2 separate regions of the Homo sapiens genome follow, and region 2 is linked to region 1. The links come from fine-mapping of genetic effects on plasma protein levels. A gene starts in region 1. The other region holds a variant in brackets. All regions are shown on one strand. Distances are from middle to middle.

Region 1 (4,379 bases):
GGGCGTGGTGGTGGGCGCACCTGTAATCCCAGCTACTCGGGAGGCCGAGGCAGGAGAATCACTTGGACCTGAGAGGCAGAGATTGCAGTGAGCCGAGATTGTTCCACTGCACTCCAGCCTGGGCAATGGAGGGAGACTGTGTCTTAAAAAAGAAGACAAAATAGAGGGAATTCTAGGAAAGGCAACCAGCAGTGGCAGAAGCTGAGAGGTGGTTGCTGGGAAGGGGCTGGGGGGAGGGGTGGCTGCAGAGGGGCATAAGAGAATTCTTAGGGGTGATTGAAACGCCCTAGGTAATGATTGTTGTCATGATACCATCGCTACACATTTGCCAAAACTTTGCACGTAAATTATATGCCAAGAAAGCCAATTTTTAAAAAGAAGGAAAGGATGGGTTTGAAACCCCAGTTCTTCCCCTACCAGCTGCACAACTTTAGCCGATTACGTCGCCTCACTGAGCCTCTGTTTTCTCATCTGTAACAGGGAATATAAGAGCAGCTGCTTCCCATCATGGCTGGAAGTATTAAATGCATTCATTTGTGGCAAGGCTTATAGTAATGCCTGGCGAAATCCATATTAGCTATTATAGGGAGCGTTCCTCAATTTGCGGAGAGGTTTGGGGTAGAGGCACAAAAGATGACCTTACAGGCCAGTTAACCATTCTCATCTCTGAAATGCCCCGCACTTTCCCTACCATGTCTTGGGAGCGGCTTCCTGATGACAGCAGTTCTGTCCACACGAATCTGAGGCTTTCACCCAGCTGTCTTCTCAGAGCCGAGCCGCTGCCCCTTCCCCTGCCTGTCCCCTGTCAGCGCTTCCCTCCACCCCATGGTCATCGCACACCGGAAAGGCCTTGCGAGCCCCAGGGGAGCAGATGTTGGTGCTCCGATTCCACGAGGAGGCCTCTGGGTTTTCCATTTTACCTGCCTGGATGGCTTAGGACTTTCCCGGACTCTGGGGCTAAAGATTCGGCACCTGAGTTTTAAAACCTTTCCCAGCACTTCCCAGAGATGCCCTCCCGTCCTCTGCACTCCTGTCCTTCCCTGGCCACTTGGGCAGAAGTCATTAGCACTGCTGAGAAGGGATGATGCTGGGGTTTCTGTGCACTCAGGCCCTTAATCCAGATGAGATTTTTTTAAACTCCCCACAGCCAGTTCTATTTCCAGCTGCACCTGCCCCTGGATCTTCACAGTTCCTCTGGAGGGGATTAGGCAAACCGTGCAGCTGCCTAAAACCTCACACCTTGAAGGAAATAGTCATTGAATGTCTGACCTCTGGGCTGGCTGTCTCGGACTCTAAGCTGCCAGGGAACCAGGGCCTTCCACCCAGTGGGACTGCCTGGGGGCTTTTAAATGCCCCTGCCTGTCCCCTACTCCCAGAGATGGTGACTTCCTGGGTCTAGGCATTAGGAGTTTGTAAAACTCCCTGATGATTCTTCTGTCCAGCCCAGGCTGAGAACCACTGGTCAGAGGCCTGGGCACATCCCAAGGCTCATCCAGAACCATGGGGTGCAAGTGACAGAAACAAGAGCGGCTGCTGATTGCCTCACTGAGCGGTGAAGCCCAGCCTTGACCATGGATTAGGCCAGCTGGACCCAGGAGCTCAGGCCGGAGGATGCCTGCTTCCCTCTGCTCTGCCCCACCGGCCCCAGCAGCCTGGGCCCACATCCTCTCAGTCAGAAGCTGGCTCTCACCGGCTGGCTGGGCTCACAGCCCCACCCTGAAACCAGCAGTGTGGCCCGGGGCCCCCGCAGGGCTCAGACAGCCAGGCCTTGGGTGGTTGAAGGCCAAGAGCTGGGGGCCCTCTGGGAACCACACAGCCGGGAATGGGAGGGGGTGCTCCCCAAGGGACAGTTGAGGTGCCGGCTTTCAGTGGGAGGAAAGGGAATGGGTATGAGCTGGACAGAGCCATTATGTCACCCAGAGAGGCTCTGTCCCCCGCCCCGCTGAGGGGGAGACAGTAGGAGAGTGGCCACAGGTCCAGCAGTGGCGAGCACAGGCTCTGGGGTCAGGTGTTGGAGCAGGGTCCAGCTCCTCCACTGGCCAGCTGCATACCTGGTTCTCAGTGCCTCCCTCCCCTGGGGACAGGGGACAGTGCCATGCAACCTTGTGGGGCACAGGCCCTCTGTGTGGTCAGCATGCCAAGAGCACAGAGAGGGTGGATTTGCACATAAGCAGCCCCCTGTGTGGTGTTCACCCAGCCAGCAACGTGCTAGACCCAGGAAAAGACTCGGAGCGCTCTGTCAGAGTCCACAGCCACACCACCAGGTGCAGACTGTCTGGGCCCAGAGCCTCTGCTTCTTCCCCTCCCGTCCACCAAACGCCAGCCCCTGACCAGCCTGGCGGCCTTTCCAACTGAGTGTGGCTGTTAGTCCTCTTGCAGGCCTTGCTCCAGCCAGACTCCCACCTTGGGCCTCTGCCAGCCTGGCACTGATAGCCACAGGCAGAGCTGAGACAAAAGAGAGGGGCCCTGGGGAGTATCAGCAGCAGCCAATCCCGGAAGACATCTATGTCAGGTGGTTTCTGGAAATCGAAAGTAGACTCTTTTCTGAAGCATTTCCTGGGATCAGCCTGACCACGCTCCATACTGGGAGAGGCTTCTGGGTCAAAGGACCAGTCTGCAGAGGGATCCTGTGGCTGGAAGCGAGGAGGCTCCACACGGCCGTTGCAGCTACCGCAGCCAGGTAAGCTCCTGCCTCTAGCTCTCAGGTGGGCACCCCTCTCAGTCTCTCTCTCTTTTTTATTTTTATTTTTTTTGAGACAGGGTCTCACTCTGTCACCCAGGCTGGAGTACAGTGATGCAATGTCCGCTCACTGCAGCCTCTGCCTCCTGGGTTCAAACGATTCTCCTGCCTCGGCCTCCCAAGTAGCTGGGATTACAGGCGCGTGCCACCACGCCCAGCTAATTTTTGTATTTTTAGTAGAGACAGGGTTTCGCCATCTTGGCCAGGCTGGTCTCAAACTCCTGACCTCTGGTGATCCACCCGCCTCGGCCTCCCAAAGTGTAGGGATTACAGGTGTGAGCCACCGCGCCCGGCCAGGGCACCCCTCTCTCTACACAGGCAAGTGGGGGTCATGCCTCCCTGTTTGCACATAGGCCTGGAGCTGGGGATCCAGGGCTCCTGAGTCCAGCAACAATCATTGCTGCTCCCAGGCCCACAGGGCCTCTGTGTACAGTTGGGCAGATTACTCACTGCACAAGGATACCAGCCAAAGGGCAAGTGGGTTAGAATTCAGCTTGGCCCTCTCTCAGACCTGTGCATTTGGCCTAGGCCTGCACCCACTCCAAGGAAGAGCACCTTTTTTTCTGATTTGCACGAAGGGGCCAACACAGGCAGCCGGGTCTCAACTGTATGAAGGAATCAGGCAAAAATAGCCGCTGCCACACAAAGGGCAGCGACGCCACCTGCCAGGTGCTTCGTTGCCCCCCCCCCTTTTTTTTTTGAGACAGAGTCTTGCTCTGTCACCCAGGCTGGAGTGCAGCGGCTCACTACAATCTCTGCCTGCCGGATTCAAGCAATTCTGTTGCCTCAGCCTCCTGAGTAGCTGGGACTACAGGTGCACACCACCATGCCCAGCTTATTATTATTATTATTTTGTATTTTTAGTAGAGCCGGGGTTTCACCATGTTGGCCAGGCTGGTCTTGAACTCCTGACCTCAAGTGATCCACCTGCCCCAGCCTCCCAAAGTTCTGGGATTACAGGCGTGAGCCATCGCGCCTGGCCAGTTGGCCATTTTTCCAAGGCCCTGAGTTACTCTCCCAGGACGGACAAACCTAGTGGCTGCAGCAGAGTGAAGTGGCTGGGGGCAGAAGTGGAGAGGGCGTCCACCCATACCGGCGTGCCTGGGACTGAGGGGTTTCCCAGGACACAGGGAAACTTCAGTGCTAAAACCAGCACAGTCCCCAGCACACAGGACAGGCGGTCACACCCTGGCCCCTTTAGCCATCTACTGACATTGACACAGGGAGGAGAGGTGGGCTCCCCCGAGCAGACCCCCTGCCTGTGGCTCACTGACTGTGGATGTGGAGCCCATTTGCCTCTCTGGGTGTCAGCTCATTCACTTGTAAGGTGAGGTGTAACTAAGGTGGTTCTCAGGGTCACGGTAAGGCCTCCAGTGGTGCCCGGGGAGCCCCGACAAGGGGTGGCTGCACAGTGCCAGCGAGCACGAGTCCCAGAGCAAAGCTGCTCACCAGCCAGTGCACCCAGCTCCCAGGGCGCTTGTTCATGCAGACTCCCATGCAGAGGGGCTAGGGCAAGGCCAGCCATGACTGCATTTCCGACAAGCTCTGGGGATGCCATTGCAGCCGTCCACCAGGCCCCCTCCAAGCAGCCTCAAGGTCACCAGGCCCAGACTCCCAGCCGGTGCCCACAGCAGTGCCA
Region 2 (4,379 bases), 14 kb after region 1:
GTGGAGATGTCTCATCGTGGAAACGTTCCTCTCTTGGGTGCAAAACCCCTGTGTCGGCTTGGTGTGGTGGCTCACACCTGTAATCCCAGCACTTTGGGAGGCCAAGGAGGACGGATCACGAGGTCAAGAGATCGAGACCATCCTGGCCAACATGGTGAAAACCCCCCCACCCCGATACAAAAATTAGCTGGCGTGATGACACGCACCTGTAATCCCAGCTACTCAAGAGGCTGAGGCAGGAGAATTGCTTGAACCCGGGAGGTAGAGGTTGCAGTGAACCGAAATCATGCCACTGCACTCCAGCCTGGTGACAGAGCAAGACTCTGTCTCAAAAAAAACAAAACAAAACAAAAAACAAACAAAAAAACAGAACCCAGGTTTCAGGACTAGAAGCAGAACCTTTGCACTAGGTGATGGGCGCCCTGCTCAGGGCCCCATGGCTCACTGCTGTGCATTCTGAACAAGGAGAAATGCAGATGGGCTCCTTGAGCTGGTGCGTCCACAGGTGGAGGGCAGCATTTTCTTGTCTACAGGGAGGGAGGAAAGGATGATTTGGGGGACCTGGAGGCAGGGACTTCCGGGGCTGTCTCATCTGCCGCCCAGCACGTCCGCAGAGCCAGGCTCTTGCATTTTTCCCTTCACTGGCCTCCTGAGCCTGAGGTTTCATCCCAGCCTTCCTGTTTCGTGAGCCCTTGAATGTGTGATAGGTGACACATGTGACCATGAGCCCACGGCCTGACTGCAGCTCCTGAGTCACCTGCATGTCTGTGGGTGGCCAACAGGGTGGGAAAGGTGTTGAGTCAGTGAAGGGCTGGTGGCACTGAGGGCCGTGTAGGATGGGGGCATTCAGATCTAGAGTAAGTGTCGATTCCTGGGGAGCAAGCGGCTGCCTCCTCCGATGGAAGGGGTCGGCTGCAAGCCACGGCCTTCAGGAAGCCGGAGCTCCCCATGGGCATCGAGGCGCCGAGCGAAGGCCCAGGAGCGCCAGGTCCGCTCCCATCAGCCTTGGTGACATGGCAGTGGTGAGCCCGTGCAAAGCCTCCCTCCCCACAGGCCACCTCTCAGCAGAGGAGGCCCTGGAGGCTGTAGAGGTGCAGAGTGACACTCTGTGACACCTGTCCCCACACCCCGGGGTAGGCACCCCAGCATAGGACTGCAGTGGGGCCTTTCAGGGAACAGTCAGGGGACAGAAGCATCCTCATCTCTGTGGCCATCCCAAGACGCCGGTCCCTGCTCTCTTCCCAAAGCTCACGGCTACTCATTCTTCCATCCTCCTCCCTCCAGCCCTGGCATCTCTGATCAAACCCTGAGCTGCTTCCACAGGTCACGTGGCCAAGGCCGGCTTCCCTCCATCCACACGGAAACTGAGATTGGCCACTCCGGGTTCTGCCCAAAGCGAGGTCCCCTTTCTGCTGGGCAACAGGCCACTCCCACCTGGAATTAGCCCGCAGTGCAATCTGAAACAGGCTTGCGTTTCTCCCACCTCCGTCACCTCCGTCACCTCCGTCACCGGTATTAGGGAATGCACCATAAGGCCCTGGGGGAAGCCCCAGGTGCCCTGGGTGGAGGGTGGGGCAGCCTTGGCACAGATGAAAATCACCCATGTCTCCAGAGACTGCCCGCGCTCCTGAGGGCCACGTCCACCTGTGTCCTTCCAGCTCATGGAGGGCAGCTCATGACCCATGCTCGAATGTTTGGGCCAAAGCTGGTTGTGCTGGAAGGAGTGAATCTCCCTGCCAAAGAGGGCCCTGCTCAGCTCCAAACCGCTGGATGCTCCTGGGTGGTCCTCCCAGCGGGCCTGCCGCGGGCCCCTCACGCCCATCAGCATAGCTTCCTGCATCTCAAGCCCCACGTCCTGGCCTAACGGATCTTAAGGTCACAGGCAAGGCAGCTGCACCAGCAGACAGTGGCCTCGTGCTCTGACACCAGACTTGGGTCTCTAGTAAAGAGGCAGGAGCCACTCCCCAAGTAAGGCATGTGTCCCCTCAAAAGTCCACAGAGATCTAGCCAAGGTTGGGCCCGTTTCTAAGGCACCAAGGGGTACACACATAGGGCACCCACTGGGGTTCACTTTGGTCCAGTGTGATGACTGTAGCATCATGAGTTGGCAGGAAGCAGAACGAGACAGCCGGTGTACTCCTGAGGCAGGACACGTGTGTGTGCATGTGTGTGCACGCATGTGTGTGTGTGGACGCAGGAGAGACAGACCGAGATAGGGAGAGGGGGAGGGAGCTGCC[G/A]TCAGCCACTGCTGCATCCACGTGCGGGGTGTGCTCATTTACTCCAATCAGCCACATCTGAAACAGTGGCAGCGCCGTCTTCATCTGGTGTAACTCACGAGAAGCTACTCACCAAGTCCTCGGGACAGCTGCCGAACCCCTGCCCTGGAGCTCGGTCGCCGGGTTCACGGCCAAGAGCCTCTTTGGGGAAGGCCAGGAAGCGGATTCTTGGTACTGTAAGTCCTTGTCATTTTATTACAGGGTCCTTTCTGTAAGAGATTTGACCACCCTTCCTTCCAAGGGGCTCTGGGTGATCCAGGAAATGGGTGAGAGGCTACGACTCTGTCGTGATGGCACAAGGTGCCTCTGTTCACCAGATCTGGAGCTTTTCTTTCTTTCTTTCTTTCTTTTTTTTGAGGTGGAGTCTCACTCTGTCCCCCAGGCTGGAGTGCAGTGGCACAATCTCAGCTCACTGCAAGCTCCACCTCCTGGATTCAAGCGACTCTCCTGCCTCAGCTTCCCGAGTAGCTGGGACTACCAGCACGCACCACCACGCCCGGCTAATTTTTTGTATTTTTAGTAGAGACGGTGTTTCACCATGTTGACCAGGCTGGTTTTGAACTCCTGACCTCAGGTGATCCACCTGCCTCAGCCTCCCAGAGTGTTTGGGATTACAGGCATGAGCCACCGCGCCCATCCCGGATCTTGAGCTTTTCTAACACTACAGATCATGTGAGGGTTTTGCAAGCTCCCTGCCTGTTTTGGTCCTGTGCACCTCCACCTTATGGCCATCACGAAGCATTTCAATTGCAGCATCTCCAGAGGGCCTCTCTGACCTACACAGAGCAGCCGCAGGGAATTTTCTAGGAGACTGGTTCCTCCTTCCCTGCACATTTCCCTGGGCGGGCTTTTGGGGGAGGAGAGCTTCCTGGGTCTGTCCAGAGTCAAGGCCAGCAATTGACTGCACACGGCACACACTCCAGGGCACCTGGCTCCTCGATGCCTTGGATTCTTTTCTCTACAACACACTGAGGAATTCACGGGCCATCCGTGACTCCAGTTTTCAGTCAAGCAATTGAGAAGATAATTAGCACTGCTCCCAGCTGCTCAAGCTAGCGCACAAAGCCAGAATCTCTCATGCATGCACCTGTACTAGATATTTTTAGCTTCAGCTTCCTATCATGAAAGCCCAACATAGCAGGGACTCTATATGACATTTTTTGTTATTTTCTGACACATAAAAGGGAGAAGGCACCCTTTCTGGAGGTAGACTTCTTCCATTTGTACACCATTATTGTATGCCTGCCACCCTCAAGGCTACCCTCATGATCTACAATGGCTGCTGAGATTCCAGCCATCACTTCTGCCTTTCAGGCAGCAAGAAGAAGGTAGCAGAAAAGGACAAAACTTTTCTCAGTTGTCTATCCCGAGACTGAGCTCCTCTTTATTTTTATTTTTTTGAGACAGTGTCTCACTCTGTCACCCAGGCTGGAGTGCAATGGCGTGATCATAGTTCACTGCCGCCTTGACCTCCTGGGCTCAAGCGATCCTCCCACCTCAGCCTCCTGAGTAGCTGGGACCACAGGTATGTGCCACCATGCCCAGCTAATTTTTGAGTTTTTCTAGAGATGGGGTCTTGCTACTTTGCCCAGGCTGATCTCAAATGCCTCAGCTCAAGCAATCCTCCCGTATGGGCCTCCCAAAGTGCTGGGATTACAGGCGTGAGCCACAGCACCCTGCCTGCCAGTGAGATTTTTAAAAACCATTTTATTGGTATATTACACACACACATGTGGGAAGCGTAGAGCTTGGTTAATTGTTGTGTTACATGTAAACACTGCTGGCACCACCCCTCGGATAGAGATACCGAACCTTTCCCTCACCCCAGAAGGCTCTCTAGGTCAGAACCTCCACCATGGAACCACTAAATCTGATTTCTGTCGACACAGAGTAGTTGTTCCTGCTCTTGAACTTCATGTAAATGGAATCGTACCTGAGTACCCACTCCCTAGTGTCGTGTCAGGCTTTTTGGCTTCCATACAATGCCTATGAGATTCACGCACGTTGTTCTTTGTAGCTGAAGTGAACCCCGTTACGTGACTATACCACAGGTTATCAACCCAGTCTACAGGGGATGGGCATTTGGGTTGTTTTCAGAGGGTG

Which allele goes with the higher level. Alleles are on the strand shown, and positions count from the first base shown. The strength of an association depends on the size of the effect and on how common the allele is.
For the plasma level of the protein whose gene starts at base 2,581 in region 1, allele G in region 2 goes with a higher level than allele A (moderate association).

What was found. PIP is the chance, under the fine-mapping model, that this variant and not a neighbour inherited with it causes the effect. Protein levels are from antibody-based Olink assays in UK Biobank. Linkage for the fine-mapping came from a reference panel and not from the study's own genotypes, which makes the PIPs less certain.
Region 2: its variant is fine-mapped to the plasma level of the LGALS3BP protein (UK Biobank, PIP above 0.99).

What each region holds. Positions count from the first base shown.
Region 1 is chr17:78,978,125-78,982,503 of GRCh38, reverse strand. It overlaps LGALS3BP (galectin 3 binding protein), which reads left to right and starts at 2,581. Exons shown (of 6, transcript NM_005567.4): 1 at 2,581-2,680. RefSeq lists an enhancer at 1,555-2,547.
Region 2 is chr17:78,964,538-78,968,916 of GRCh38, reverse strand. No RefSeq gene overlaps it. Among named protein-coding and RNA genes, the nearest start is that of LGALS3BP, 13 kb to the left of the region's middle. The variant G/A (reference allele first, on the strand shown) is at 2,238.